Linked DNA regions of Homo sapiens. The protein of the gene in region 1 interacts with the protein of each later gene in a pairwise test. Each region holds a gene or a part of one and is shown in the gene's direction. Other genes may lie near its edges. The genes, in order: KCNJ6, EDDM3B, ITGAM and FUNDC2.

Region 1 (7,857 bases):
CAGATGGGCCAAGACTCAATCACCATGGCCAACCCTCAATGCAAAGAGGATGAGAAATGTGGTCCAGCCCTGGGAGGAACTGGATTTTAGGGGAGTAACAGATATCCCCCCAGACTTTCCAGAGCACTGATCGCTACTCATTCATTAACCTTTCAAAACAGGTTCTTCCAGGTCAGGACAATTGCCTGGAGCTGGGGGTTTGCAGTTTAGTCAGAAAAGGGATAAAGCCTACAAATTGGAGATGGAGGGGAGGCAGGAATAAATTTCCTTTGTAACATTTTTTAAGTATGATATATCACTGAAGACTTGAGAATCAGCTAATTTGACAAACCCTCTTCTCCCACTTAAGGACTCAGAAAGACAAGAGCTTAGGGTGGCTTTGCACAGCTGGGCAGCCTCCCAGCGGTCAAGACGGGATATACACCAGGCCTGCTGGACCCTTCGCAGGGCTCTGCAGACAAGGTCTCCCCAGCCAGGCACAGTTTGAGCCCAGACACCGTTCCATATAAAGTCATATTTAGAGACTTCCACTCAGCACAAAATTAGCAGTGAGAGCTCAGAGTTGTTGACCATTCAAGGACAAGAACACCCTGCCATGTAGGGGGTAGCGGCAGTGAGAAAGCCATGGCCTCTGCCTCCCTCCACACATCCCAACCCACCTCCAGTGAGAAGGACATGGCCTTTGCCTCCATCCATACACCCACCCCATCTCCAGTGAGAAGGACATGGCCCCTGCCTCCCTCCACACACCCACCCTAACTCCAGTGAGAAGGACATGGCCTCTGCCTCCATCCATACACCCACCCCACCTCCAGCCCTCCCAACCTCAACAGCCCCCCATCAACACCTATCCTGGTATTTGTTCTAAGAAAGGGAAAAAAGCAAATTTTCTTACAAATGAATGACTTTTCTTATTTTCAATGAAGGACTACTGAGGGAGATCATCTAAAAGTCAAAGCTGTCAGACTAGAGAGTAGGCTCTGCAGAACAGATGCTGTCTCTTCCTGAGGCTGAAACACAAAAACAGATCCAGGAGATTGATTTTTAAGGCAACTGATCATCCATGAGCAAGGTTAACTCATAAGTTAGGTTGGGGGCACTCAAATCCCATCTCCGGCTATGTTCTTATTCAGATAAATGATGGTTTGTGGAGAGATGACATTTGTCCTTTAACCAAGATTAAAAACAGAGTGTCCATAAAGGAAACACATGGCAGAGTCAAACGACACAGAATTTAAGTCTGGAGGAAGAAATTTCTTACCAAACTTGTAGAAGACTTTAGTATTATTGGCCAAATAAATAATTTCATAAGTGGATTATATGCTTTTAAACAGCAGAAATCGGTTCCAAAATTCCCCTGCACTCAAGTTTTAGGAGAGCTTTCCTAATGCATTATTAACTAATGAGTGAACCAGTGCATTAATCATGAAAGCCATAAGAAACAACATAACTAGACATGGTGCCTCATGCTTGTAATCCCAGCATTTTGGGAGGCCAAGGTGTGAGGATGGCTTGAGACCAGGAGTTCAAGACCAGTCTGAGCAACATAGTGAGACCCCCGTCTCCATGAAAATAAAATAATTGGCCAGGCATAGTGACATAAGCCTGAGCCTCCTGTGCCTACTCAGGAGGCTGAGGTGGGAGGATCACTTGAACCCAGGAGATCAAGGCTGCAGAGAGCTATGATGGTGCCACTATACTCTAGCCTGGGTGGCAGAGCGAGACCCTATCTCTAAAAAAAAAAAAAAAAATTTAAACTTTTTTAAAAGAAAAAAAATAACCACAAGCTAAAATTACAGATGTTGAATGTTGAGGAGGCAGAAACCAAATCAAATATGTAAGCACACAGACAGAGAGAACATTTCCCCACCCTTTTTTACTTACCTTGGCATTGAATCAACCATTAAAGTACAATGCATGCATACTTACCGACAAAAACCAGAAATGTTTTTTAAACCCTGAAATTTGGCCAATAGTTCAAAGAGCTTGTTCAAGACTCTTGCCCTAAACATAAGGAAAGTGACAAGGGAACAATTTATTACAAAAAAATATTGATTGCAAGTCTGTTACATGCAGGCACAGATCACATACATGGTTTTGTTTAACCTTATAACAACACTGTGAGTTGGGTATCATGATCAATTTTGTAAATGAGGAAACTGAGGCTCACGAATTTGGATAGTGTGTTGTAAGTCAGTTCAGGCTGCCATAATAAAATATCACAGAATGGGTGGCTTAAACAATGGACATTTATTTTCTCATCGTTCTGGAGGCTGGAGTTCAAGATCAAGGTGTTGGCAGGGTTAGTTTCTGGGAGCCCTCTCTCCTTGGTTTGCAGATGGCCACCTTCTCCCTGTGTCTCATATGGCTTTTCCTCTGTTTGTGTGCACCCCTGGTGTCTCTCCCTCTTCGCATAAGGATACCAGTCCTATTAGATTGGAGCCCCAACCCTATGGCCTCATATAACCTTTAACTATCTCCTTAAAGGCCTTATCTCCCAATACTGTCACCTTAGGGGTTGGGGCTCAAGCCCCATATGGATTTGGTGAGGACACAATACAGTCCATAACAGATATCATGGCCAAGAGCCCACTAAGAGTTGCTAAGTAGTAGAGCTAAGCCTGTCTGAATCTAAAGAGGACTCCTTCATCAGAGCTTACTGCCTCTCCCATGCCACAGCATCTCAGAGTTGGGAGGCATCCCTCTGTGAGAGCTGACTCAGTAGAACCTGCTGGCAGGGACACAATTTTGCAGCAATAAGCTCCGTCCTGGTGGGCAGGATGGTGAAGTACTTACACAAACTAGATCGAAGAGCACAGAAGTCCAAGTCAACTAGAGGCCTATCCAGATGGTGTGGAATAAAAATGGCTTTGTCTACTTTGTTTATAGCTACACAAATGGTATTTGGTTTCACCAGCCCATACAAAGTGTGCCGTTCCATTGTCCTCAAAGAGCCAGCCTTTCATTCAGTGTTTCTTTTCTTTTCTCCAAACCACCAGCTAACGTCCTGGAGGGCGACTCCATGGATCAGGACGTCGAAAGCCCAGTGGCCATTCACCAGCCAAAGTTGCCTAAGCAGGCCAGGGATGACCTGCCAAGACACATCAGCCGAGATCGGACCAAAAGGAAAATCCAGAGGTACGTGAGGAAAGACGGAAAGTGCAATGTTCATCACGGCAACGTGAGGGAGACCTATCGCTACCTGACCGATATCTTCACCACATTAGTGGACCTGAAGTGGAGATTCAACCTATTGATTTTTGTCATGGTTTACACAGTGACCTGGCTCTTTTTTGGAATGATCTGGTGGTTGATCGCATACATACGGGGAGACATGGACCACATAGAGGACCCCTCCTGGACTCCTTGTGTTACCAACCTCAACGGGTTCGTCTCTGCTTTTTTATTCTCAATAGAGACAGAAACCACCATTGGTTATGGCTACCGGGTCATCACAGATAAATGCCCAGAGGGAATTATTCTTCTCTTAATCCAATCTGTGTTGGGGTCCATTGTCAATGCATTCATGGTGGGATGCATGTTTGTAAAAATCTCTCAACCCAAGAAGAGGGCAGAGACCCTGGTCTTTTCCACCCATGCAGTGATCTCCATGCGGGATGGGAAACTGTGCCTGATGTTCCGGGTAGGGGACCTTAGGAATTCCCACATTGTGGAGGCTTCCATCAGAGCCAAGTTGATCAAATCCAAACAGACCTCGGAGGGGGAGTTCATCCCGTTGAACCAGACGGATATCAACGTAGGGTATTACACGGGGGATGACCGTCTGTTTCTGGTGTCACCGCTGATCATTAGCCATGAAATTAACCAACAGAGTCCTTTCTGGGAGATCTCCAAAGCCCAGCTGCCCAAAGAGGAACTGGAAATTGTGGTCATCCTAGAAGGAATGGTGGAAGCCACAGGTAAGATGTGTTCTATCCTGGGATGGCTGTGGGATAGATGCTCATTTTAAACTGGACCTGATGTTCTTATCTATTACAAGATCTAGAATACTGAACCTCACTCAATATTGACAACATCCCCTTGCTTCATGACATAGTATGCCTACATGTCTCACCTGAAGTATATCCACCAAGAAGCCTAACCATTTAGTTTTTTAAAGCCCTTTGGAAAATAAATTAATGAACAATGAAAAATCACCATGTAATATATTTTAAGTCTCCAAATATTTACCTAAATTAAACTCTGATCTGTCTCTAAAGCATGTTTTAAATGGCCTTAAAACATTGCTAATTTAAATACTTGAGGTTATTTGTTACCAAGTTAGAAGGAGGAAGTTAAGCCTTTCAAAGGAAGCCTGACAAACTGCTTTAATAAAAATGCAATTTCACCCATTCTTTGAGAGTCATTTATAAGGCCTATAGCATTGGTTTTTCTTTTGTATGAAGTGAGTGCCTAGTATCTCTCCACATTCAACCTGCTGAGCTCCCAGTAAGTATAAAGCTGCAGACACAGTAAATAACTCTAGCAGAAAAGAAAAAAGTTGAAGATCCATTCATCTTAATCCCGCCGGCCCTCCTGCTGTTAATGGCTAATCATTGGGATGTTTTAGGGAAGATGATCTGTTCAGGAAATAGAGAAAATGGTCTGTTTTTACTGACGTCTTCGCTCATGTCTGAAATTTGCACGTTACACATCCCAACAGCAAAGCAGGTTCTGCCCATGTTTGTATGTAACATCCCCCAAAACAGAGCCATCAGCTAGGACTCAAGATAACCATAGTGCCTCACGGGGAAAGTATAAACCAGAACCCTAATTCATTAAGGTCTTTATTGTTCTTTGAGGTAGTAATAGTGTCTTTGGGGTCCTTTTTCCTGATACCATCAGCCCTTTTACGCTTTTAAGTCTTCAGCTTGAGATTCAGGTGGTTTATATTGTCTGAAATTGCATGACCAGCAGGCTGGCCCCATGTTCTTCATCAACCTGTGACAAGTAACTTAATCCTGTGATCCCTTTTAGGGAAAAGCCATGGGTCCCATGTTTCTACCTCCCTGTACCCAACAGGCAAGGTCACAACCTCTCACAAATTTCTTTTACGGTGGTGGTGTGAAACTTTTGCTATAGGGTTTTTAAATGCAGCAAACAGTGAAAACGTGAGTAAAGGGCTTTGCATGGAGCTCAATGGTAGGAGCGGTCTCCTTTCCATAGAACAAAAGGCACAGGAACCTAATCGGAAAGTAGCTTTAAAGAATAACAAAAGTCACTGTTGCAAAATAAGACATAAGTGCTCCAGGTGTTAACAGGACTATCTGTACCTTGAGCCTGATTTGGGGGTGCATTTGTGTGGCAATAGTTGGGTGGGGAGGAGGAAGGGAGATAGAAGGGAGAAGTAGAAGGGAAGGCAGGGGAGGAGGAAGGGGAGGAAGGAGAGGAGGAGAAGGGGAGGAAGGAGGGAAGAGAAAGGGAGGAAGGAGAGGAGGAGAAGGGGAGGAAGGAGGGAAGAGAAAGGGAGGAAGGAGAGGAGGAGAAGGGGAGGAGGGAGGGAAGAGGAGGGAGAGAGGAGGAGGGGAGGAGGGAGGGAAGAGAAAGGGAGGAAGAAGAGGAGGAGAAGGGGAGGAGGGAGGGAGGAGGAGGGAGGGAAGAGAAAGGGAGGAAGGAGAGGAGGAGAAGGGGAGGAGGGAGGGAAGAGAAAGGGAGGAGGGAGAGAGGAGGAGGGGAGGCTGGGGAGGAGGGAGGAAAGAGAAATAATTCAAACAGGGAGCTGTCACTTTCCTACAGACCAGAAACTTCCCCAACCTCAGCTGAGCACAGGGACTCTGGATCCCCCTAGCGGCCACAGAGCTACAGCCTCTGACACTATGAACTGACCACTCAGGATGCAGTTTTTCTTTTCCCTTTTCACCATAAATTCCCCCAAGAGGACATGAGAGAGGGCAGTGTCTCCAAGCTCAAGAAGCAAAAACCACTGGAGACGTACCCTCTGGTTACTGATGCTAGTCTGAGCTTTAAATTGTGGGAGTTAAGCTTTGTGTTCCCTCAAACCAGAGCCCAATCTCTGTAAAATAAATGAATCTGGAATAAGCAAATTATCTTTGTGATGTCCCTGAGTCAGAATTCTCCCTGGGGCAGGCCCTGGCTTTCTGATGACAGCTGGTAATGAGTGAGCCTTTCCAAAGGGAGGAATATGGTTTTCTTGGTAATTAACAGTGATACTTGCCTCTGAGCACCCTATGGCCTTTCTACAGCTTTCATAGAGAAATCTGAGTAATTACCAGCAAAATCAATCCAAACGCTCACCCCATCCCTGGGAAAAGGCAACTGCTACTCATTTTCTTTTAAAAAATAGTCTTCTAATTTCTAGACTTGGGGGGGGGGTTCTAGAAAGTTCTGGAGGTGTCTGGAAACTGGAAGTGTCTTGGTCTTTTCCTCAGGGGAATCATACAACTCAGTACCCCCAGCACAGCTGCTCTCTTACGCTTCAGCAGGATACTGTTTCTTTGTGAATGAAAAGCTCAATTAGGATTTATGGGCATTAAACAGGCCCTTAGGGGAGAAAAATGCTTCAATCTCTCAAAACCACAGGAAAAAAAAATGTGGACCAAATGCACACTCGAGGAAAACAAATTCACAGGGATCTAATTATTCATTGTAGTGCTGGACTGGAAATCAGGAGCCGTGATAATAGCAAGCTGACACAAAACAGCTTCCCCTGCGCTCATCACTTCTTTCAACAATGTCGCAGTTGACCTTAACCTGCTGTGCTCAGTGGTCTCCACGAGCAGGCCTCTTCCAGGGAGGAGGGAAGGCCCACATGGCCACCTTCACGCGGTGCCCTCTTCCCTGTTAGGAAGCAGGCATCCTGGGCACAGGATGATCCCAGCGTGGTGTTTTCCGGAGACCGGAGTTGTCCCACAGGAGGCCACCTGGGTCCTTCCGTCTGCTGGGAGCTCAGGCCCGGTGCAGGCGAGTGGTGCTCTGTGGATGCACTGCCTTCCAATGCCAGCCGCATTGCAGGGTCAGGTTCCATTTTTAGAAAACGAAAGTGGGCTCCTTGAAGGCTGGAAGCGAGCCCCCCTTTCATGGCCTTGAAGGGACTGCACAAAAGACAGACCCATGCCCACGCAGAACAGCCCCGAGTCCTTTGTGAATGGCTTTGGCCTGGTCCCGCCTGAAGTCAGGAGGGACATGCCAGGCGACCTTTCAAGAACCTTCCAGTCATGTGGTTCTATTTTTGAAAATGAATCAAACCCTGGAAAATTCTGACACCAGCCACTCAGACATCTAGGAGTTGGCTGTGTCTCATCTGCAGATATATTTTTAAAGGGGGCCGTTTATGTTCCTGACACATGGGCGATTTTGAGATAGTGGTGTTTACAGAAGGTTTCATAGCTACGTAAACAAACGTGCTCAGCAGCTGTGGCCCATGTGTGTTAAAATAGTAAAGCATTCATATAGACTGTTATTTATAGAGGGCAAATGGGCCTCGAGGCAAGATGACAGCCACGCAGCGCTGGGCTTGCTGCCAGTCAGCCCCCACTACGGCCTTGCTGATTGACGAACTTCCACATTTACCCCCAGCGATTATACAACTGCGACAGGCAGCACTTGCCCACTCCTCGGCAAATGTGCTGGCAAGGATGAGTCCCCGTTAAGCCTTTTGGTTATTTTACACTTCTTTTGATGGAACCTATCAGACTTACACAAAAACAGACCCAGTAGTATCACTAACCTCTGTGTCCCCGTCATTCTGCTCCAGTGATTATCAATTCAGGGTCAAACTTGCTTCCTCTGTATCCCCACTCATTGGCTGCCCACCAGAATCACATCATCCTCATCTGCAAATATTTCGGTATGTGCCCCTAAAAGATAAGGATTCTTTTAAAAACATAGCTATCATAC
Region 2 (8,559 bases), on another chromosome or scaffold:
CTTAAAGAACTGTATGGCCTTAGATATCCTGCCTGCAGCCCAAGGTGGCACATGTGCATTAACTAAGACTGAGTCTTGCGTGTATGTGTGTGTGTGTGTGTGTGTATCAGATTATTCCCACAGTGTAACCCTAGCTATGAAGGCCTTAAATATTTCCACCATAGATGCCTCATCCTAAGGCCTTGTGATGGCACGCTTTAGTCAACTCCCTAGTGCATGGAAGACTTATACATCGCTTAATTGGCATTCTACTCAGTGTCTTCTTCAGCTGCTATGGATTTTATTGCTATTGTGCTGTCTGTATGGGGATGCAAGACAGACTTCTCAGCAGCTCTTAGTTCCCCACACCAAAATGCTCCAGCAAGTTCCCACTGTCAATCTGGGAATTCAAGAATATTTCCAACTCCAGGTAAGCAGATTCCATCCCATTACCTCCTAATTATGCCTCTTTTCAGCAGGAAGTAGCCAGATCGCCTGCATTGACCACTTCCCATAGAAATGGATGGGATTTGACAGTAGGGAGCTGTAACCAAGTAACTGAACTTCAAAAATGCATTTCAGGCCAGGCACGGTGCTCAGGCCTGTAATCCTTGCACTCTGGGAGGCCTACGCAGGTGGATCACCTGAGGTCAAGAGTTCAAGGCCCGCTTGACCAACATGTGAAACCTCATCTCTACTAAAAATACAAAAATTAGCCGGGCGTGGTGGCAGGGCACCTGTAATCCCAGCTACTTGGGAGGCTGAGGCAGGAGAATCACTTGAATCCAGGAGGTGGAGGTTGTAGTGAGCCAAGATCGTGCCACTGCACTCTAACCTGGGCAACAGAGCAAAAACTCGCCTCAAAAAAAAAAAAAAGAAAAAGAAAAAAAAGAAAGAAAGAAAATGCATTTTAAAACTTTTTTCTTTTTTTCTCTCTTTTTTTTAGTCTCAAGATATAACCTTGAAGCAAACTGCAGAAATTTTTTCCCCTCCTCAGTCTTAATATATAGCTTTGAAACATACCAAGAGTCTTTGTTCCCCCGCCATTTCCCACCGTACACTCCCTTACGTCACATACATTTATCTGACTGTAGGCTTGTATCTAAATATGTGCTTACTTAGAAGTTCTAGGGACTAATTTTGAGACAGATTACAGGCATGGAAACCCAGCTGCAAAATTCCAGAGATTACCTCAAAGCAGTTAGTCAACAACCCGGCCATTGTGGGGATGATGCCAGCCCATGCTCCAGGTGGACCATGACTCAAGATAGCCACCAGAACGAGACGCACGGACCTGTACCCAGCACCACTCCTTGCATGCCACCCACTGCAAGTTCCCTTTGTAAGCCCCTCTCCCCAGGCTAAAGTTTGAAATGGTTCCTTTAAGGCACAAGCCATGGCCACTTCTCCAGTGCTAGCTCTGGAATAAAGCTTCTTTCTTTTCACTGCATCTTGTCCTTGTTATTGGTTTTGCAAGCAGCCAAGCCTGCATTTGGTTACATTTTATTGTTTTAAAACTACTTTCAAATGCATTACTTCTAAAAATTCTCAAAATTACTCACTGATGTACTAGAATATATCATCAGATATGATGCCTTGAAAAGCTCTAGAGCTCTTTCTTAGCTTGCTTCTTCGAACATTGGCTCAGGTAGCTTCTCTCTCCCACCTCTCTCTACATTCCTTGAGTCACTACTTGAATTTAAGTCTTCAATAGATAATGCACACTTGTTGGAAAGAGCTCTGGATGTGTGGGCACATGACAAACGACTGATTTTCCCTCAGAATCGCCTCTCAAGTCATCCAAATCCAGATGCCCAGAATTGTTTCCTTTATCTCTTCTCTATCATCAAAAGACCTAGAGAGTAGGAGGATGCATAGAACCTGCTCTGAGGCAATAAGACAGAGCAGGGATCTATCTTAGAGGTGAGCAGGGCACCCTCCCCAACCCAGCATGGAAATAAAGGAAAATCTTCAATTTCTTAGCTAGCCTTGAAAAGAAAAAAGAGGAACTAGATAAGCAAGAAGGTAATGCTAGCTTAAAACAATAACCAGGGAAGTTAGAATCAGGGGATGTTTGGTTCCCTATAGAAACTAAAAATAGCATCTTAACATACATCCCTGAGTTCTTCAGAAACTCAGACCCCCAACAAACAGATCTGCTGGCACATAGACCTCAGATAAGGGGGAAACTGAGGACTAAACTCTCACCACCGTTCATCTAAATTATTTCGAGTGGCCTGGAGAAAGTCACACCCATGATCCAAAGCTAACATTCTGTTCTGCTGACCCCCATTCTTAAACAAACTTTCATCTCCTTAACCAATTGCAAATCAGATGATCTTTGACTCTACCTATGACCTGTGAGCCCCTGCTTCAATACCTTGCCTTATTCAGCCAAACTAATGTGTAATCTCCACATTTTAATTTACTATTTTGCCTGTAACTTTTGCTTTCCTGAAATTTATTCCCGCCTTTATTTAATTATTTATTTATTTTTTTGAGACGGAGTTTCGCTTTGTCGCCCAGGCTGGAGTGCAGTGGCGCAATCTCGGCTCACTGGAAGCTCCACCCCCCAGGTTCACGCCATTCTCCTGCCTCAGCCTCCCCAGTAGCTGGGACTGCAGGCGCCCGCCACCACGCCTGGCTAATTTTTTTGTATTTTTAGTAGAGACGGGGTTTCACTGTATTAGCCGGGATGGTCTCGATCTCCTGACCTCGTGATCCGCCTGCCTCGGCCTCCCAAAGTGCTGGGATTACAGGCGTCAGCCACCGAACCCGGCCTTTTCCCGCCTTTAAAAACCCTTACCTGAAGTCATCAGAGAGGTCAGGTCTTCAGTGTGAGCCACAAGGTTCTCCTTGCTTGCTGCTTTGCAAATAAACTCCCTCCTTTCTCCTGCCGCAGACCTTGGTGTGGATATTTGATCTTACTGTGCTGGACGATCAGACCCCAGTTCAGTTCCATAGGAACAATATCTCTCCCGTGCCCCACAGAGTCTATCAGCACATGATTCCCTATTATTCAATGATTGCTTGACAGGAGCTGAAGTATGAAGAAAAGTTCTGGATATAAACGGAATATTCTGACATTCTAATAGCTAGGTGGTCCAGTGACAAACTCAACCAAGGTGGCTCAGGTAGGAGTGGCCTTGCGGATGTTGATAGAAAATACATTCAAGACCAGGTACAATGGCTCACGTCTGTAATCTCAGCACTTTGTGAGGCCGAAACGGGCGGATCACTTAAGGTCAGGAGTTCGAGACCAGCCTGGCCAACATGATGAAACCTCGCCTCCACCAAAAATACAAAAAACTACCAGGGTGTGGGGGTGCCCACCTGTAGTCCCAGCTGCTTGGGAGGCTGAGGCAGGAGATTCACTTGAGCCTGGGAAATGGAGGTTGCAGTGAGCCAAGATTGCTCCACTGCACTCCAGCCTGGGTGACAGAGGGAGATTCTGTCTCCAAAGTAAATAAATAAATAGAAAAAGAAAATACATTCAAGTATCTTACATTATCCATAAGTGAAACCTTTGGTTACTGTTACTGAAACAATATTCGTTGCATATACCAATTTAGGGGGAGTTGGTATGAAACGTGCTGGAAATTCCAGATGTGATATGGAAAGGTCACCCATGGGATGCTCACACAAACTCAGTTTAAGGGCTGGTGGTCTTGACCAGAGTGAGCTGAGTTTAGGGCTGAGTCTTGAGTTCCTGAAAAACAATTAGGTCAACACCTTGTGATGCATACTTCAGAGTCAGATGTGATATATAGGAACATTGTGGAAACTATGGCTAGGCTACCTGACATTTTACTAAGGCAGTAAGGACTACAGCGTCAGCAAAGGTTATTGTTAATGAGGACTAAACTCTGATTTTTTTTATCTTGCCCAAATTCCTATCTAAGGGGTCTGGGGAGTCATGCCCTACAAATCATCAATTCTCATCAGATGAGTTTTATTTAACCCTGTATATCATGTTTTACTTTCCAACCTGACTCTGGCATAACATTACCAGACAAACAAGAAAAAGTATTTTGCCCCAAAACATGTTTCTTTGCCACATTTTGAAATTGCCCTGCAAAGCTGTTCTTTGTGGGGGAAAATTTGCATCTGTAAAGAATCTCTATTAACATAGCTAAATATTTTTCTTCCAGACCTTCCAATCCTAAAGATATTAATTAAGATCTGAAAGGGAAACATTTGTCATCTATTGTCTCTAAGGGCAGCCACTATAAGACTTCGAAAGAATTGGTCTCTACCATCTTTATTTTAACCTGAATATTCCCTTTCTATCAATCTCAGGTCTTTAGACAAAACTAGTTGTCAACCAGAAAATGTTTAAATACACCTATGGCCTGGAGGCCCTCCACTCCCCATCAGCTTTGAGTTGTCCCGCCTTGCTGGACCAAACCAATGTATTTCTTAAATGTATTTGATTGATGTTTCATGCCTCTCTAAAATGTATAAAACCAGCTGTGCTCCAACCACCTTGGGCACATGTCCTCAGGACCTCCTGAGAGCTGTGTCATAGGCCATGGTCACTCATATTTGGCTCAGAATAAATCTCTTCAAATATTTTACAGAGTTTGACTCTTTTTTTTTTCTTTTCTTTTGTTTTGAAATGGTGTTTTGCTCCTGTTGCCCAGGCTGGAGTGCAATGGCGTGATCTCGGCTCACTGCAACCTCTGCCTCCCAGGTTCAAGCGATTCACCTGCCTCGGCCTCCCAAGTAGCTGGGATTACAGGTGCCCACCACCACGCCCAGCTAATTTTTGTATTTTTAGTAGAGATGGGGTTTCACCACCTCGGCCAGGTAGGTCTTGAACTCCTGACCTCAGGTGATCCTCCCGCCTTGGCCTCCCAAAGTGCTGGGATTACAGGCGTGAGCCACCACACCCAGCTGACTCGTTTCATCGACAATAACAAACTGCCTAGTAAAACTTCAGATACTGGCTACCTAATCATAACTATCTGGCCACCAGTTTCACTAGATACTCTTTCACCTCTCAACGAAAGTCCCACAGTTCACAATGTTATAAGTGGCTTTCTTCAGAGAAGTTTCTGTGTAACATAGCATAACCCTCCAGGGACTTCCCAGAACTTTGTCAGAAATTGAGTGCAGAAGCCAGGTCTCTCGTTGTCTACTGATAGCACCAGATAACCCCTTTCTGGGGTCACCTCACTCTAGGGTCTTGCACTTCTTCTGTGCCCTGGAGTCAGCCTTTGATGTTTGTAGCCTTTGCTTGAGGCCACTGTCTGAATAAACTCAAGTGTTCCAGATGAGAAGATACAGGAACAAGTTCACATAATAAGGCTATTCCCCATCACCACCTCCACTACCAATCAGCTGGAGCCTTGCAGCTCCCCCTGCTATTCCTTTCTCCACTGCTGCAGATTTCCAGGGCCCTGAGGAAAGGAGGACTCAGACTCTGCTCTTCAGATCCACACACTGATCCCAACTACAACCAGTGACCTGAACTTGGAGTCTGAGTAGGGTAAGAAGGGCTCTGCTGAGGATGTTTGGGGGACAGCCAGGAGCACTGAAAGGAGGCTGATTGAACTTTTAGATAGCAAACAATGGAGAAGGATCCAAATCATGGAAAACAAAGGTGTGAATTCTGGTCAGCCTCAGTCCCACTGATACAGGCTTTCCCTGCCCCTCCCTTCCTTCACCCCCAGTCTTCTCAAACACAATGCATTAAAACCGCTTACATCCTGCTCTTCTATCCTCTGTAGGTCTTTATCATCAGGACAGGGTTCCACAGATAGGAAGTACCGACCCTTTGTTCTGTGTCTGATGTGGACATTTGACATCATTAGAAGTGCTCTCAAATACATGCGTCTCATTAGACACTTGCAGGTCTGTAGGGAGCTATTATTAAGTCCATCTGAGGACACCAATGCTCAGAGTTGTGAATCAGGTTAGAGATTCAGTAAGGGCGGGAACACTTCTCATGGTAAATGAGGACAGAGCACTAGTTTAAACGGTAGACTCTTTCAAAAAGATCCCCACACTCCATGCTATCACCACAGAAGCCACTGTGGGGGCTCTTTTAGTCTTGGTGCTTGATTGATTACAGGAATATTTCAAATCTGGAATTCTGGTTGGGTGTAGTGGCTCATGCCTGAGAATCCCAGCACTTTGGGAAACCGAGGTGGGTAGATTACTTGAGGCCAGGATTTTGATACTAGCCTGGCCAACATGGCGAAACATTGTCTCTACTAAAAAAAATACAAAAATTAGCTGTGTGTGGTGGCAGGCACCTATAATCTCAGCTACGTGGGAGGCTGAGACAGAGAATCTATTGAACCCTGGAGGTGAAGGTTGCAGTGAGCCAAGACTGTGCCACTGCACTCCAGCCTGGGTGACACAGTGAGACTCTGTCTCAAAAATAAATAAACAAATAAAAACCTCAAAACTGGAGTTATTTTATGATGACATTTTCAAGGAGCAGCTCTGACAAACCAAGATCATTTGTAATAGTGATAATTAGGGGAATGACCCCTGAGAAGGAATATGGGTAGTTAGTAATGAACATACGTTCCACTCAGGCTTTGGAGAAAGTGTTATAAGGAAGTCAAGATTGGAGAAGCATCATTAAGTAATTGGAGAAGCAGGCAAGAAGTAATTGCAGGCTAGGCTGTCATTTTAGCGAATCGAAGCCTTCCTACCTAGGAACCACTTCCCAAGTAGTTACTCATTTTCTACATTTCCCTAAAATCTGACAACCCTTTCCACTTCAAGGACATAAACCTTAAAATATCATTCTCTTTTGGACACATGATCTCCTGAGAGTTGGTCTGGTAAAAAGGAGCCAGCTGGAGGGTGATTGGCTCCTCAGGTTGGGTGTAAGAGAGGGATGAGAGGAGATGGTTGGAATTCTCAAAATGAACTTCATCTATTTTTTCTAATTATGTGTTTCGCTTACACAGGCTGAAGCGTGTTTTTAGTTCTTAGAAACTCTATTCTCTAATGAGAATTAGCATCTTCTCATCGGGGAACCAAATAGTAAAATTGCACCCAAGTGCCTGCCTGGTGGGGAAGGAATTTTAAGGTGGAGTTCAGCTCTCTGGGCATTGTCTGGATAATGCTTTTCTTTCTCTTCTCTGTGGACACGCAGGCGGCCCCGGTGACTGAGATGGCATCGTCTCTAAAGATCTGGGGCACACTCTTGGCCCTACTTTGCATCCTATGCACACTGCTTGTACAGAGCAAAGAAGTTTCTTGGAGAGAATTCATGAAACAGCACTACTTAAGTCCAAGTCGAGAATTCAGAGAGTACAAATGTGATGTCCTCATGAGAGAAAATGAAGCTCTGAAAGACAAGAGCTCTCACATGTTTATCTATATCTCATGGTACAAAATCGAGCATATATGCACTAGTGACAACTGGATGGATCGCTTCCGAAATGCATATGTATGGGTCCAGAATCCTCTCAAAGTACTCAAGTGTCACCAGGAGAATTCCAAAAATAGCTACACAGAGAGCAGGAGCTTCAACTACATTGAATTCCATTGTAGCATGGACGGGTATGTTGATAGCATAGAAGACCTAAAGATGGTAGAACCTATCGGCAACTAGAAAGTCTATGCACATCCTCAGGTATTGGTAGAGTATTCAGTGCTTTCTAAGTAGCAGCCCCTGCCTCCATCAATAGTCCTACCACTCCCCTCTTGCATTTATTTGTCAATGTTTTCCAAATACTTAGAGTTATGAATAGCATAATTTCTTGATACCATAACTTTGCCTGTGTTGTTTCTCTGCCTGGAATACACTTTTGTCTTCATTTACCTAATTTACTCTTATACTTTTGTCGACATTCAGCTCATATGGCATCTGTTCTTGATTAACCCAAGACTTTCCTGATATTGACTCTCTTGATACATACCCAAGCTGAACAATCTTCCCTTCCCTAAATAAATTATATGACTGCAATGTGTGTGACATTCATATATGTTATGTGCACAGAGTGAGTATAGTGTGATTGATATGGGTGTGTGTGATCTAGACTATGCATGTGATTGATGCTGTGCAAGGGATTGAAGGTGTATTTTATGGGTGCATATCTAATGTATGTAATATGTTTGTGTATATGATGAGGGTATGAATGATTGTGTGCTTAGTTCAAGACAAGTTGTGATGTAGGCATTGATTGCAGCATCAATTTGAAATAATCAAAAGTGTCAGAATCCAGTTTTAAAGAGTTGATTCAAGCAAAAGGCTAGGAGTGGCCATTCGGTAACACACAGACTCCACAGAAATGGAGTCAGTGTTCCAAAGCTGAAAATTAAGTTCTTGCTTATGTAGGAAAAAGACAAAAGAATTTAACAGGATTACAACAATTTCTATAACAGCTGGTTTAAGAGTTACAACAAATTAATTAGTTACAGTTTGTCCCCCAAGTCTTCTTTTCTTTTCTTTATAGTTTTTCATTTCCTTTCCAATTTAAAAGAGTGTATTTAACATTCCATCTTAATGTGATAGCGATGAAGTCTTTCTAAGAGGAGAGGGAAGTTACTCTATCATGAAGATCAACAGTGGAGAGGGAAGGAGTCTTCCCCTGTACCCTTCAGTAATTTACA
Region 3 (7,857 bases), on another chromosome or scaffold:
ACCCTGAAGCCTAAAACATTTACCTTTACAGAAACAGTAATTGTGGAGGTGATAGTACCTTTCCAGAAGAAGGGGGCTGGTCTCTGCTCTTTGCTTTATCTCCCATAATACAGCCCAGTGATTTGAGTCCATTAATCCCATGTTATGCTTGCATTGCATGCCATAATTGGGAGATGCTATAATTTATTTTATTTTATTTTTTTAGAGACTCCCTCTGTCGCCCAGGCTGGAGTGCAGTGGCATGATCTTGGCTCACTGCGACTTCTGCCTCCTGGGTTCAATCGATTCTCCTGCCTCAGCCTCCTGAGTAGCTTGGATTGCAGGTGCCTGCCACCACGCCTGGCTAATTTTTGTATTTTTGTAGAGACAGGGTTTCACCATGTTGGCCAGGTTGGTCTTGAACTCCTGAGCTCAGGTGATCCACCTGCCTCGGCCTCCCAAAGTGCTGGGATTACAGGCTTGAGCCACCGTGCCTGGCTTGTAATCTCCTTTTACATTACATTAGATCTCTTGTTAATGAACATTTAGATTGTTCCCAAACTTTTGCTCTATGAACAATGCTGTCATTTTGCACATGTGCAAGCCTATTTGGAAGTAAAGGCTAGGACTGGGATTGTGGTATCCACGGGTGCATGAGCACGTGCAATTTTAATAGATTTTTCCAGATCCCCCTCTACAGTGGTGGCAGCAATTTACACTCACACCAGAAATTCATGAAAATACCTACTTCCTCATACTCCCTCACTCATTTGCCAACTCAGTGTGCTATCAAACTTACTGATCTCTGCAGATCGAGTAGGTGAGAAGTGGTATCTTAATTTAGCTTTAAATTGCTTCTTTTTTTTTTATGAGAGAGGCATTTTCTGTGAACATGTTTTTCTTATCTGTTGGCCATTTTTCTTTCTTTTTTTTTTTTTTTACTAGTTTGTACAAGCTTTGAGTACACTGAGGAAAGTAGTCTGGGGTATGAGTTGTGAAGCTCTCTCCCTTGTGTATTATTTTTCTTTTGAGTATGCTTATGGTAGTTTATCACATACAAAAATTTATTTATTTATTTATTTATTTATTTATTTATTTATTTATTTATTTATTGAGATGGAGTCTCGCTTTGTCGTCCAGGCTGGAGTGCAGTGGAGTGATCTCGGCTCACTGCAACCTCTGCCTCCTGGGTTCAAGCGATTCTCCTGCCTCAGCCTCCCGAGTAGCTGGGACTACAGGTGCGTGCCACCACGCCTGGCTAATTTTTTTGTATTTTTAGTAGAGATGGGGTTTCACCATGTTAGCCAGGATGTTCTCGATTTCCTGACCTCGTGATCCACTTGCCTCGGCCTCCCAAAGTGCAGGGATTACAGGTGTGAGCCACTGCGCCTGGCCCAGAAATTTATTGAAAATGACTGTGTGGAGGCTGGGTGCAGGGGCTCACGCCTGTAATCCCAGCATTTTGGGAGGCCGAGCTGGGCTGGTCGCTGGAAGCCAGGAGTTCGAGACTACCCTGGCCAACATAAGGAAACCTCATCTCTACTAAAAATACACAAATTAGCCAAGCATGGTGGCACACACCTGTAATCCCAGCTACTCAGGAGGTTGAGACAGGAGGAATGCTTGAACCTGGGAGGCAGAGGTTGCAGCAGTGAGCCGAGATTGCACCACTATACTCCAGCCTGGGTGATGGAGTGAGAATCTGTTTCAAAGAAAGAAAATAAATAAAAATAAAAATAAATAAAATGACTGTGTGGGCCGGGTCCAGTGGCTCATGCCTGTAATTCTAACACTTTGGGAGACTGAGGTGGAAGGATTGTTTGAGCCCAGGAGGCAGAGGTTGCAGTGAGCTATGATTATGCCACTGGACTCCATCTTGGGCAACAGGGTGAGACCCTGTCTCAAAGAAAAAAAAAAAATGGTTGGCCTGGGACTACAGGTGTGTACCACCATACCTGGCTAATTTTTAAAAACATTTTTTGTAGAGATGGGGTCTGGCTATGTTACCCGGGCTAGTTTCAAACTCCTGGCCTCAAATGATGCTCCTGCCTCAACCTCCCAAGGTGCTGGGATTAAAGGCATGAGCCATGGTGCCCAGCTTGAATTGACCTATTTTTATTTTTAAAATTTATTCATTTATTTTTTGGGACAGAGTCTTGCCCTGTCTCTCAGGCTGGAGTGCAGTGGTGCTATCTCGGCTCACTGCAACCTCTGCCTCCTGGGTTCAAGCAATTCTCTTGCCTCAGCCTCCCATTTAGCTGGGATTACAGGTACGCACCACCACGTGTGGCTAATTTTTTGTATTTTTAGTAGAGGCGGGGTTTCACCATGTTGCCCAGGCTGATCTTGAACTCCTGAGCTCAGGCAATCCACCCCCTTGGCCTCCCAAAGTGCTAGGATTACAAGCATGAGCCACCGCGCCTGGTCCTATTTTTAAATGACTTCTGGTTTTTGTGTCATTCTTAGGAAGACCTTTTCTCATTCTGAGTCTTAACATTTTCCCATTTTTTTCTTTGCTAATTCTTCCTCCTAGTCATAGGAATTTAGGAATCCGGGTATGGGCCCCCACCGTCCTCTGGGTGGCAGAACTTCCTCTGTGGTCTCCTTCTCTCCCCACATGTCGAAGTTTTCTCTGTTCCCACTTCTCCCCACAGGGTGGTGGTTGGAGCCCCCCAGGAGATAGTGGCTGCCAACCAAAGGGGCAGCCTCTACCAGTGCGACTACAGCACAGGCTCATGCGAGCCCATCCGCCTGCAGGGTGAGTCACTGCCCCGCCGGGCTGGGACTGGGATTCCCCTGTGAACACATAGGGACTTTCCAGGCACTCCTGTGTCCTGGGGATCTGTGGTGGGGACACAGGTGCCTGCCTCCGTACCCTCTCCTCTGCCTGCAGTCTCTACCCTAGACATCCCCAGGCAACCCCTCTGTGTTCCTTTCTTTCCCAAGATTTAGGATCCCCCTTCACCGTCAGACCTCCTTGTCTCCCGCATGGAGGTGACCCCTGCCCAGCTCTTCCACAGCCTTCTCTGTCCCCCCACCAGGGTGACCATGCCCATATCTGTCCCCGCAGTCCCCGTGGAGGCCGTGAACATGTCCCTGGGCCTGTCCCTGGCAGCCACCACCAGCCCCCCTCAGCTGCTGGTGAGTGGGGCTCGATCAGAGGAGCATCCTAATGGGGGTGTTTGGGGGCCCACGCATGGTGGGGCTGGGGGTCTTGTGGAGGGTGGAGGTGCTGGGGTACAAGGACAGGAAGCAGGGGCAGCCCCTTCCACTGGCTCCTGTCCCCTAGGCCTGTGGTCCCACCGTGCACCAGACTTGCAGTGAGAACACGTATGTGAAAGGGCTCTGCTTCCTGTTTGGATCCAACCTACGGCAGCAGCCCCAGAAGTTCCCAGAGGCCCTCCGAGGTGGGTTGCCTTTGGCAGAGGGAACAGATGCGCAGCAAAAGACCAGGGGAGGGGGCAGGACTGAGGTGACGTCTGCTCAAGGTCTGGGCTCTGGGTGCAGAAGAGTGGGGGAACTGGGTCCCATTAGAGTCAGAAGCTAGGGAGGTGCTAGGGTCTTGTACTTTAGGAAAACGCCTTGGCTAGGCACAGTGGCTCATACCTGCAATCCCAAAGCTTTGGGAGCCCAGGAGCTTGAGATCAGCCTGGGCAATGTAGTGAGATCCTGTCTCTAAAAAAAAAAAAAAAAAAAATTAGCTGAGTGTGGTGATGAGCACCTGTAGTCTTAGCTATTTGGAGGCCAAGGTGGGAAGATTGCTTGAGGCCACAAGTTCAAGGCAAGCCTGGGCAACATAGGGAGATCCCCGTCTCTACAAAAAAAAAAAAAAATTAGCCAGGCGTGGTGGCACACACCTGCAGTCCCAGCTACTCAGGAGGATCACTTGAGCCTGGGAAGTTGAAGCTGCAGCAAGTTATGATTGCACCACTGTACTCCAACCTGGGTGACAGAGCAAGACCCTGTCTTTAAAAAATAAGTCCAGGTCACACTGCAGAGGAGGGGATGGTGCAAGGTGTCATTGGCAAGAGGTGGGAATCTTGGGGACCATCCTGGGGGGCGGCCTTCCACACCCCTGTTCCCCAAACCTCTGTTGATTGAGATTCTGAGTGACTGTATGGATTTTTTTTTTTTTTTTTTTTTTTGAGGCAGAGTCTCGCTCTGTCACCCAGGCTGGAGTGCAGTGGCACGATCTTGGCTTACTGCAACCTCTGCCTCCCAGGTTCAAGCGATTCTCCTGCCCCATCTTCCCAAGTAGCTGGGATTACAGGTGCCCGCCACCACACCCGGCTAATTTTTGTATTTTTAGCAGAGACGGGGTTTCACCATGTTGGCCAGGCTGGTCTCGAACTCCTGAGCTCTGGTGATCTGCCCACCTTGGCTTCCCAAAGTGCTGGGAATGAGCCAGGGAATGAGTGGGGGGCATGAGCCACCATGCCTGGCCAGAGTGCGTGGATCTTTCAAGCTGCTTTTTCCCACTGCTTTGTTCGATGGCTATGCCATCTTTTTGCTTGTCTTCATGTTGATTCTGGGACCACAGGCGAATGTTTCTCCCTTGCATTTTTTTTCTTTCTCAAGCCCTGTTCCTCTATATTTCACCCTCCACAGTTAATCCTCCTTCCTCCACAGAGAAAACAAAAGCTTCAGGCATGGACTCCCTCCACTTTCCCCTTCTCTTATTTTATCTTAATAAGCGGTTTTCCAGTCTTCACTGGAATTTGTTGACAAATTCTAAAGGAGCTGTAACACCGCACTTTCTCCTTTTTCTCAAATTTCCATAATGACAGCACTCCTGGCAGTGACTCACTCGTTTTAGAGGAAGACCTGTCTCTCCTCTGTCCCATGACTAAATTCTTCCATATGGGCTTTTGAGAGTCTCTCATGCACCAACTAAGGTGATCACCTATCTTTCTTTTTTCTTTTTTTTTTGGAGACAGGGTCTTGCTCTGTCACCTAAGCTGGAGTGCAGTGGCACAATCTCGGCTCACTGCAGCCTCTGCCTCCTGTGCTCAAGAAATTCTTGTGCCTCCGCCTCCAGAGTAGCTGGGATCACAGGTGCGCATATACTGATTTTTGTATTTTTTGTAGAGATGGGGTTTCACCTTGTTGCCCAGGCTGGTCTCGAATTCCTGGGCTCAAGAGATCTTCCCACCTCAGCCTCCCACAGTGCTGGGATCACAGGTGTGAGCCACTGCGCCTGGCCCAGCATCTCTTGAATCACTTGTTTTCTCTCTAGGACAATTAACTTCCCCCTTCCTCTGGCTGTAAACACTCTTCATTCTATCTGTATCTGAAAAGCAATCAACCACCACAATCGATAGCCATGAAAACAATCTTCTCTCTTCCAGTCTCCTCCTCATCTCCTGCCATCTCTCCTCACCCTCACCACCCAAGCTTCCTGAGTGCATTCTCTTCACCCCCGGCTGGCCTCCAGCTTCCCTCTCCACCTAGGGGCACTGGGTTCTGGGTTCTCTTTTCACCCACGTGTTCTTCTTTCCTGAAATCACCCAGTTCTGTGGCTTCAGCTAACACTTCTACCTCTCCCTCTTTAGACCTCACTCTCAGGGTTCAAGACTACTTCTTTAAAAAAGTTTTCATTTATTAAAAAATATATAATACATACACTTGGTTCAAAATTCGAAAGGGTGCGGTAGCTCACACCTGTAATTCCAGCACTTTGGGAGGTCAAGGCAGGAGGATTGTTTGAGGCCAGGAGTTTGGGACCAGCCTAGACAACATAATGAGACCCCATCTCTACAAAAAATGCAATTAGCCAGGCATGGTGGCGTGTGCCTGTGGTCTTAGCTATTCAGGAGGCCTCCCAAAGTGCTGGGGTTACAGGCATGAGCCACTGTGCCCTGCCAGTCTTTCTAAAATACAAAACAAATCATCTCACTTCCTTTTCTAAGAACCTTCTGTGGCTCCCCATTGCCTACAGATAAAGTCGAGCTCCTTATTGGAGTAGAAAGGCCCTTGCCCGCTGCTCTTTGCTTGATGCCACCGCTGTGTCTCCATCGCCGTCACATACGTTTGTCCCTGTAGTGCTGTTTCCATCAAACGGCATTCCTGGATTCTGCCAGAATCCTTTTGAGGCCCTTGTCCCATATATCAGTAGGAGTCTCAACTGGGACCAAAAGCACATTCCAGTAATGTAACTGCCCAAGGGGTTCACCTTGCTTGCTGCCTAGACAGAGCCGATTCATCAAGACAGCAGAATTGCGATAGAGAAAGAATAATTCACACAGAGCCAGCTATGCAGGGGACCAGAGTTTTATTATCACTCGAATCAGTCTCCTCGAGCATTTGGGGGCAGAGTTTTTGAGGATAACTTGGTAGGTCGCGGGGGAAGCCAGTGAGCTGGGAGTGCTGATTGATCAGGGATGAAATCATCGGGAGTCGGAGCTGTCTTCTTGCGTTCAGTTGGTTCCTGGGTGGGGGCAGCAAGATCGGATGAACCAGTTTATTGATCTGGGCAGTGCCAGCTGATCCATCAAGTGCAAGGTCTGCAAAATATCTCAAGCACTGATTTTAGGAGCAGTTTAGGGAGGGTCAGAATCTTGTAGCCTCCAGCTGCATGACTCCTAAATCATAATTTCTCATCTTGTGGCTAACGTTAGTCCTACAAAGGCAATCTAGTCCCCAGGTAAGAAGGAGGTCTGCTTTGGGAAAGGGCTGTTACGATCTTTGTTTAAACTATAAACTATAAACTATAAACTAAGTGTCTCCCAAAGTTAGCTCAGCCTACACCCAGGAATGAACACGGACAGCTTGGAGGTTAGAAGCAAGATGGAATCAGTTAAGTTAGATCTCTTTCACTGTCTCAGTCATAATTTTGCAAAGGCGGTTTCAGTAAGATTTATTTACAAAGAGGGGGGTTTATTTATAAAGGGAGTAATTATAAAGCTGTGACAGGCCTAAGGGAGCCATCAGGGACTTTCCAAGCCCTGGGCAAGCAGGTCTGTTGCCACCCCTGGGTTTATGGGTTGAGGAGAGGGAGAGCTCACCAGGGTCTGGAGAGAGTCATGTGGAGCTGGCTTCCTTCTGAGGAACAGTTGGTCTTTTGTGAAGGACATAGCTGTCCCCAAACAACCTCAATGGGAGAACACCCGGACCTCACTGCCCTCCTCCCTCTAGTCTTCTGTTGAGCCCCCTCATCTGCCAAATCCAATGGGAATCCAGAGGGCAACAGAGTCCTGGTGATGGGGTCCCTGCAGGTTGACCTCCCAGGCCACAGAGCTGAGCGGCAATGGGTAGAAAGTGGATTTGGGGATGGGGCAGAAGGCAGAGGAGCACATTCCACATCACTTTATATGTGTGTGCCCTTCCCTTTTCTAGAATCTACTCCTTTTGTATATCTGGCAAATCCTTCCTTCCTTCCTTCCTTCCTTCCTCCTTTGCTTTCCTTTCCTTTCCTTTCCTTTCCTTTCCTTTCCTTTCCTTTCCTTTCCTTTTTTTCTTCCTTTCTTCCTTTTCTTCGAAGTCTTGCTCTGTGACCCAGGCTGGAGTGCAGTGGTGCGATCTCAGCTACTTTTTGTATTTTTAATAGAGATAGGGTTTCACCATGTCAGCCAGGCTGGTCTCAAACTCCTGATCTCAAGTGATCCACCTGCCTCAGCCTCCCAAAGTGCTGGGATTACAGGTGTGAGCCACCTCGCCCAGCTGGGCAAATTATTTCCTGTTCTTCAAGATTCAGTCAAACATCACCACATTCCCTGATTCCCTTGGGCAGAATTAACGAAAATTTTCCATACCACTTTGTCCTTGTTTATTTACTTATTTATTTATTTTTAAGAGACAGGGTCTTTCTCTGTGGCCCAGGCTGGAGTGCAATGGCGTGATCATAGCTCACTGAAGCCTCAACCTTTTGGGCTGAAGTGA
Region 4 (7,857 bases), on another chromosome or scaffold:
AAGTCTATGAAATTTTCTATGTAGACAAAGATGTCTATGATTGGAGACAGTTTGACCTCTTCCTTGTGAATCAGGATGCCTCCTAATTCTTTTTCTTGCCTTGTTGTGCTGACTCTGAATTCACTTCTGGTACGATATTTAATAGGAGTGGAGACGGCGGACAGCTTTGCCTTGTTCCCTGCATTCGTTCTTTCACCATTCTGTACAGTGTTAGCTGCAGGGTTTTTTATGTAGATGTTCTTTATCAAGTTGAGGAAGTTCCCCTCTATTGCTCTTTCTCTGAGAGTTTTATCATGAATTTGCGTTGAATTTTGTCAGATGTTTCTTGAGTCCTGCCTTGAGGTTAGGCCAGGCGATACTGCAGGAAAAGCAGGAAACACGCCACCAGTTTGGTGGTGCTTTGAATTCTGGTCTTCTCCAATCTGCACGTCGCTGTTTTTATGTAAGAGCCTTCAAATAGCTAGTCCATGTATTCTCTCAGTTTAATAGCAGGATTTTGTGGGATAAACAGGGTGGAGTAAATGAACCAGAGCCTTCTTTTAGATACAAATGTTGATACTCAACTATGTGGTTGCTGTAAGTAATTTGTTCTTTTTAGTACTAAGTAATATTCTATTGTGTAAATATGATACAATTTGTTTATCCATTCATGTGTTGATAGACTTTTGTGTATTTCCAGTTATAGACTCATAAATAAAGGTACTATGGCTTGATTACTTGTGAAGTTGAACTTTTTCCTTTTTGTGGACACTTTCCTCTGAATTGCCCTTACCCATTTTTAAAGTGAACTTTCTTACTGATCTCTATAAGAAGTTCACTTTTTTGAGTATCAATGTTTTGTTTATGATACACATCACAAGTATTTTCTCTAGTCTGTTTGGGTGACTGGTGGTGCCATTAGCTAAAATAGGGCCTAGAGGAAGAGCAACAATGCAGGAGGAGACTCTAGCAAGGTGAAGACTTTTAGTTTCAGATATTTTGAGATTGCCAAAAATTTGGTAGAGAGAAGTGATATTGATAGGGCATTGATTGATTGGCTACAGTCATTCTCTTCATTCCTAGGATGATATTAATCCATCATCAAAATCTACATGCTTGAATCAGATTTACACTGAGTTTTAGTGTTTGTGCCTGCTGTTTTTATCAAGGGAAATAGGTATATGCTGTAGGTGTCTTTGGATGTGGTTCTCTTAATATCCGTTTATATGAACTTGCTCATGAGAAATCTCTGTGGGGCCAGATGCTAGATTTCTTCCTGTTAAGCAACAGTAATAACTGCCTGAATGCTTTGCTCTGTTCACATTGTCAGGAAACTGACACTCATGGGCACATTGTCAGAGTCATTCTCTGGAAACATTTGTATTGGCTGTAAGGTCCATCTCTTCACCCTACATCTTGACCCCCCACCTTGATTTTCATCTTATGTAACTCTTTGTAAAAGGGTTGTAAGAGTATAAATAATTTAAAAGAATTGCCAGTAGTTATTTCTAGTGCCAGGCATATGGCTTCGCATATAGGGGGGATGCTGAGTAGATGTCATCATGATACAAAGAATCAAATGGCAGATGTCTCCAAAAATGGAAAGTCAGAGGGTTTCGAGAGTCTACTTCAGGATTTATCCTGACTAAAAGAAATAACAAATCTGTTTCTCATTTCTTGTTGTCATTATTGTTGATACTGTAGCTTGCAAACCATACTGGGTACATCAAAGTTGACTGGCAACGAGTGGAGAAGGACATGAAGAAAGCCAAAGAGCAGCTGAAGATCCGTAAGAGCAATCAGATACCTACTGAGGTCAGGAGCAAAGCTGAGGAGGTGAGACTTGCATTGTTCACGTGTAGTGTGTGAACAGTGCAGACAAAAACAGGGCTTAACCCTATTGTACCATATCTCAGTGATGGACAGGGCTTAAGCATTACAAAGAACTTAGAGTAATGAGACAAAACTAACTTGGATTATCATCACTTCAGAACATTTTTAAAAGCTGGATAATTGTTTGGTGACCTTTGTCTGTGCACATTTGTGGAGTGATTATCCCTTTAACCAGTTCTTGTAGGAATGTGGGGCAGCATAGTAGGTGGGAAGGATATATGGCCAGTATAATTATTTTGAGTCCCATTTTGTCGCTATACACGCATATCTCTGAAACATTCATACTCTGCTTGTTCTGCATATAACTAGTGGAAATGTCACAAGTATTCAACTCCACTGTATATCATCAAAATAGCCATAGATGATATGTTAAATAAGTGGATGTGGCTGTGTTGCAATAAAACTTTATTTAAAAACAGGTTCAGATTGGATTTGGCCCATGGGCTGTAGTTTGCTAACCCCTGATCTTGTTCATTAAAGCCAAGTTAGATTATGACCTGGCACTGCAGGGACAGGAGAAGTCCTTCCTTTTTAAAAGGATATTTTTTGCTGCTGCTTTATTACCTTTAGAAATATGTCAGATGTTGCAAATAAATAAGTACACTGAACTGGGGAGAAATAAACAAGGATCAGGGTGTCAAGAAGATAGCTGGTACTTTCTGTAGCCTGGAGTGATGAGAGATTCTCCCATTAGCTCACTCTAGCCTCACAGGGAAAACAGACAGATTGAGTGCAGGGGAGGAGAAATACCCTGTGTGCGCCTCAGGCTTCTCATGTTGTGAGTGGCTCTTCGTGCTGGTGATTGGCAAGTGGCTGGTCAAAGCTGGTGCCTTTACCCAGAGTGGGAAGGTGGCAGAGATGGGTATCTACAGGAGCCCAGAGCCCAGATAGTTTCTCTTTCCTTTCTTCCTTCTGTCTCTCCTCAAAGTTAGGAAAGTTACATTTTTTATTTCATGAAAACTTTATTATTCAAATGTTTATAAAAATAATGCATGGCTGGGCACAGTGACTCACCACAGTGAGTAAAAAAAAATTTTGTAAGAGAGGTCTCACTCTGTTGCCCAGGCTGGAGTGCAGTGGCACAGTCATGGCTCACTGTTGCCTCAACCAAGCGATCCTCTGACCTCAGCCTTCTGAGTAGCTGGGTCTATAGGTGTGTACCACCACACCCGGTGAAGTTTTAAATTTTTTGGAGAGACAGGGTCTCCCTGTGTTGTCCTGGCTGGTCTCAAACTTCTGGGCTCAAGCAGTATTCCCACCTCGGCCTCCCAAAGTGCTGGCATTACAGGTGTGAGCCATGGCACCTTGCTGAAAACTTTAAAAATAATACTGGAAGTGTATATAATAAAAAGCATAAAGTTAATATTTGATTAGAACCAACTGTTGACTCACAGAGGGAGTTTGTTATAAAGTAACCAGATAATTTGGAATTGAGTTCACTGTCACAGGCCCTGGGGATGTAGTGGCTGGTTTTCCTACTCATAGAGCCGGTGGTCTGATTTGAGAAACAGGATGAAGATTTAGTTCAGTATTTACCAACAAGATGACTTCAGTGAGAACAGTTTGGTGGGGTGGTGGAGTTGAAAGCCAAATTAGCAAGTTGAAGAAAGAGTAGTAAAAATAATAAACGAAACCAATTTTCTCAGGAAGTTGTATGATTTTTTTTCTTCACCCCAATGGCAGATGACAAAAGTGCTTCATTTAAGGAAATGTAGAGGTCCAGGAGAGATGGAGGAGGAGTGGAAATGAGGCAGGAAGACATAGGCATCGTTGGAGTAAGGGCTTACTGGAGGGTTAGAAGACAGTGGTCCTAGGAGGATGGGGTTGGTAGTGTGAAAAATGTTAGGGGAATGTCAGGGTGTGAGTAGCTTAGGTGGTTTGGGGATGGAAGTCACCGTACTTGAGTTCAAGAAATGATCAGGCCAGGATGTTGGATGTCTTGTTCATATGAACACTTTCTAAGGTGGTGATCACACTTAGGAGAAAGAGGAAGTCTGAGCCACTTATCAAAATTGTCTCTGAAATTGGAAGGGTGGGGAGTGGTCAGGAGATTGGTAGAGCACAGACTAAGGAGCCATAAAGAGTGTCTGAATGTATGCACTGAGTCTCAGATGACCGGGAGCTATTCCAGGAGGGTAGAGGGGAGGTGGGAAGCTTTGGGAACTTAAGGAAATAAGAACGTCACCTGTTAATCATCTTAGATGTGGTGAAGTGTGAGAATGAGAATTTATAGCATCTACCTGGGAGCAGGTTTCAGGGGGGAATGCATGGATGGAGAGATTTAGGGGAGAGACTTCAGGAAATGAGAAGCCTCTATTGGAGGGTAGATGCCAAAGAGGATGGAAGGAGCAAAATTGGAAACAGAATTGCCTCTGTAACCAGTTTATTTAGTGCAGCTTTACTCTTTCGCCATAACTGTCCCCATGAACTCTCCTTCTTTGTCCTTGATTCAAAGAGCCATTGTCTCTACCTCCTGATGTGCATCCTCCTTCCCATCAGGCTCCCTCTAGTCTTATTCTCCCCACACCAGCCAGTAGTCATTTTCATATGTAAGTCTATTTAATTATTATTAAATAGACTATTAGTGTAAGTCCATTGCCCTTTGGGTAAAGTGCAAATTACGTAACCGATGAGGGGATTGACATTGTTAAGACTGGCATAGGTATAATAGAGATGATTCTTAATATTATTAACATCCTTAGCAAAACAACCCATTGTACTATCTTCTGTTTTCAGGTGGTGTCATTTGTGAAGAAGAATGTTCTAGTAACTGGGGGATTTTTCGGAGGCTTTCTGCTTGGCATGGCATCCTAAGGAAGATGACCTCATGTTCATTGTTCCTGGTTTTTTCCAGCCAGCAGCCTCTACACTCCATCATAGGACATCGAGTCCCTCCTCCTCTTCTCCCATGCCTTCTTCCCTGCCATGGCAAATCTGAGTGGCTTCTCTAAGCATCTGCTGGTACAAGTCAATGTGGCACCATGAGCTTCATGGTGGCAGAAGAGACAATAGTCCTTAGCTCTCCTCCCAGTACACCCCCTACTTGGCCAGTCTGTAGGCCAACAAGAAGGTTCCTTTACCCCCATGCAAGACACTTATGAGAACACATTACAAGATGGCTGACCGTGGAGGATGAGTGGATCCTGAAAGGTTGTCCCAAACTGTTGATTTGGAAAAGAAATAAGCACATAGATAACCTTATTGTGTGCTGCATGGAAAGGAACTGAATACATTTGCCTTTAAGCATGAAAGATTTTGGTATCTTGGTGTCTACTTTCTTTTTTAGTTGGTTTTACATTACAGAAAGCTATTTAAATGTGTTATAATTATGCCGACAAAATTGGCAGCATAATTACTGTAATTGAAAAATCTGATATTGTCCAGGAATGCTTTCTACCGTACAGGATAATGTATCTCATGGCTGTTTCCAAAGGGTTTATTTATTGTAAAACAAGTGATTTAGGTGGGAAAGGGAAGATTTTGGATTTTTATTTTGTAGAAAAGGTTTTAAGCTTTGAAATGTGAATGAAATATCCTTATCAAAACATTAGGGGTGGCCATAACTCCTCTGTGCCACTTCTACTATTTTTTTTTTTAATCTAGTTAGTATGAAATACAACATTTAAACCGGAATTTTAAAGAAGTAGCTTTCCAGGGATTCAGAATTAAGAAAGATAGTGATAGGACATGAGAAATAAATTTCCATCAAGTGTAATCTACCGTCTCATGATGACCACAACCCTGAGAATTATTCTTTAAAAGCTTACACACACACACACACACGGGCACACACGCACACACAGAATCTTACCACATTTTGCTGTAGTGGCATGTTACCATGTCTACAGTCCCTACTAGAATATCAGTCAGCTTTCAGAGGGCAAGACTTCTGTCTTCACCATTATACTCACAGGGCCTAGCACTTAATAGGTGCTGAGTATTTGAATAATGACTTTATAGAAAGAAAACTCACTATTAAAGGTTAGTTTTACTCAGAATTGTTAATCTTGGAGATGATCTCTTGTGAAATATGAGTGTGTTTCTAAGGCCATACATTTAAAAATGTTTGCATTTTAACCCGTCTTGAGAATGATGTATTGAATTTGAAAATCAAAACTACCAGTGGATGTGTGGAACTTTACAGAAACCACCTATTTGCGTTTTTCTCCTTACATTTAAGGAAACATAAGCCATTTTGCTTGCAATATGTATGAATCATCTCAAAACCATAATGGTATGAGCCTCTTTGCTGCATATTTTGCTATAAGAACTTATTTTTTTTCACTTTTTATTATGGACGCTTTCAGGAATATATAAAAGTAGAGAATATAGTACAATAATCCCCCTGTGTATCTATCACTCACTCACAACAATCATCAAATTATAGCTCTGCTGGTTTTTACCAGTTATTGTGAAACAAATATCAAAATGTCATTTTATCATATTTCAGTATGTATCTCTAAAAGGTAAGAATTATTTCTAAAAATCATAAATACCTCATCATATCAGACATTAACAGTAATTACATAATATCCAAAATCTGATCAGTGTTCAAAATTTCCTCAAGTGTTTTATATTTAGTTTGTTTGAATCAAAATTCATGCAAGGTTCACATCGTATTTGCATGATTTGGATAAGTCTCTTAACCTTATAGATCCTCCTCTATTTTTTTTTTTTTGCTTGCTATATATTTATATCTCTATATATATTGATATAGACATATGTAGTGACACTGAGTCATCTGTTTCCTGCTTCCCCACACTCTGCCTCTCCTGACATCTGGGTCTCTGGGTTATGCCATATATGGTGATAGTGGCTGCAGCCACTTTACCTGTGTGACTTACCCACAGCAATGGGATGGTAACAGCAAAGCTAACCAAAGTGCTCTGTGCCCCTTTGGGTTGCATGTGGGGAGACTGGCCACCCAATGCCTCTCCAGTGGGGTAGGGGTTGTCTTTTGGTGCATCTGTTTTTCCTGTGATTATTGGTGAGGGCAGCAAAGATTAGCAGGTGGTTGTAAACTACCTTGAGTAGGTTGTAATAAATAGTCTGGCCTCAGACTGTATTCTGATTGTCTGAATTAAGATCTGTAGGTAGGTCCCTCCTGAAGTTTTTTCCCAGCTGGCTGCCTCTACGACTGTGAGGGTCATGGTTGAGGTCAGTATTGCAGGTTGGCCTCATCCTGCTAGTATGAGAACGGCTGTGAGTTCTGCCCACGGTGTGAGGCCACTGTGACCACTTGGGATTGTGCAGAGCTGGCATGGAGGTTGAACACGCACAGCTGCACACCTTGTTTTCAGTTTAGCTGAACCATCGGTGAAGGAGGCTCAGGCATTTGGGGTTACCTGTGAATCAAGGCCCTATTGTGCCAGCAGTTTTGTTTCAGGTGGTGAAGTGGGAGTTAAGGTTTCCCCCAAAAGAACAGCTGCCACTCCTCCATGCAAAACCGAGATGATTCAAGGACCAGGCAGCTCCACCTTTCAGTGCACTACTTTCATTTGACTGGAGAGGCCTGCTTAGCTAGGCACGTATTTTCTCCAGTAGCAGAGTCCAATGACGCTCTGGACTTCCTAATTAGTGGTGGTGGGGCGGAAGTTTTTCCTTGGGAAGAGCGTTGTCGCTGTATATGGTCCGCAGAAACTTGACTTGGAATGTGTTCGGGGTTTCATCGCCCCCTTGTGGCGGCGACGTGGTAACACCGCACTCAAGGCTTCCAACTTGTCAACCAATAGGATGGCATCTACGTAGTGAAGGCTTCCCTTCCCTTGTCCTGCAGCGTGCTGGACAGTGTCCCGGCTCAGGGACCCCTTCTGTCCCCTTCCTGGCTACTATGGGTCGGCCCTGCGTCCTCACCACTTTGAGCCACCCTTTGACCCAGCGTCTCTCCCGCAATGGGACCTGGTGGGATGGGGACTTGGAGCATGCTACAGGAGAGGTAGAACTTTTGAGTCTCTTCTTCCCAAGGTTCTCCCCAGAGTCGGAGAG

The links.
Region 2: the proteins of KCNJ6 (region 1) and EDDM3B interact in binary tests that used the Homo sapiens proteins (3 or more experiments, as listed by UniProt).
Region 3: the proteins of KCNJ6 (region 1) and ITGAM interact in binary tests that used the Homo sapiens proteins (3 or more experiments, as listed by UniProt).
Region 4: the proteins of KCNJ6 (region 1) and FUNDC2 interact in binary tests that used the Homo sapiens proteins (3 or more experiments, as listed by UniProt).

The regions. Positions count from the first base shown.
Region 1 is NC_000021.9:37,710,274-37,718,130, reverse strand, and holds part of KCNJ6 (G protein-activated inward rectifier potassium channel 2), read left to right. Parts: intron 1-895; exon of another isoform or gene 896-1,010; intron 1,011-1,929; exon of another isoform or gene 1,930-2,999; coding exon 3,000-3,920; intron 3,921-7,687; exon of another isoform or gene 7,688-7,817; intron 7,818-7,857. UniProt on the Homo sapiens protein: Inward rectifier potassium channels are characterized by a greater tendency to allow potassium to flow into the cell rather than out of it.
Region 2 is NC_000014.9:20,763,037-20,771,595, forward strand, and holds EDDM3B (epididymal secretory protein E3-beta precursor), read left to right. Parts: upstream 1-5,367; 5' UTR 5,368-5,470; intron 5,471-7,096; 5' UTR 7,097-7,114; coding exon 7,115-7,558; 3' UTR 7,559-7,912; downstream 7,913-8,559. UniProt on the Homo sapiens protein: Possible function in sperm maturation.
Region 3 is NC_000016.10:31,262,762-31,270,618, forward strand, and holds part of ITGAM (integrin alpha-M isoform 2 precursor), read left to right. Parts: intron 1-2,633; coding exon 2,634-2,737; intron 2,738-3,020; coding exon of another isoform or gene 3,021-3,049; coding exon 3,050-3,120; intron 3,121-3,268; coding exon 3,269-3,386; intron 3,387-7,857.
Region 4 is NC_000023.11:155,049,987-155,057,843, forward strand, and holds part of FUNDC2 (FUN14 domain-containing protein 2), read left to right. Parts: intron 1-1,683; coding exon 1,684-1,815; intron 1,816-4,608; coding exon 4,609-4,686; 3' UTR 4,687-7,857. UniProt on the Homo sapiens protein: Binds directly and specifically 1,2-Diacyl-sn-glycero-3-phospho-(1'-myo-inositol-3',4',5'-bisphosphate) (PIP3) leading to the recruitment of PIP3 to mitochondria and may play a role in the regulation of the platelet activation via AKT/GSK3B/cGMP signaling pathways.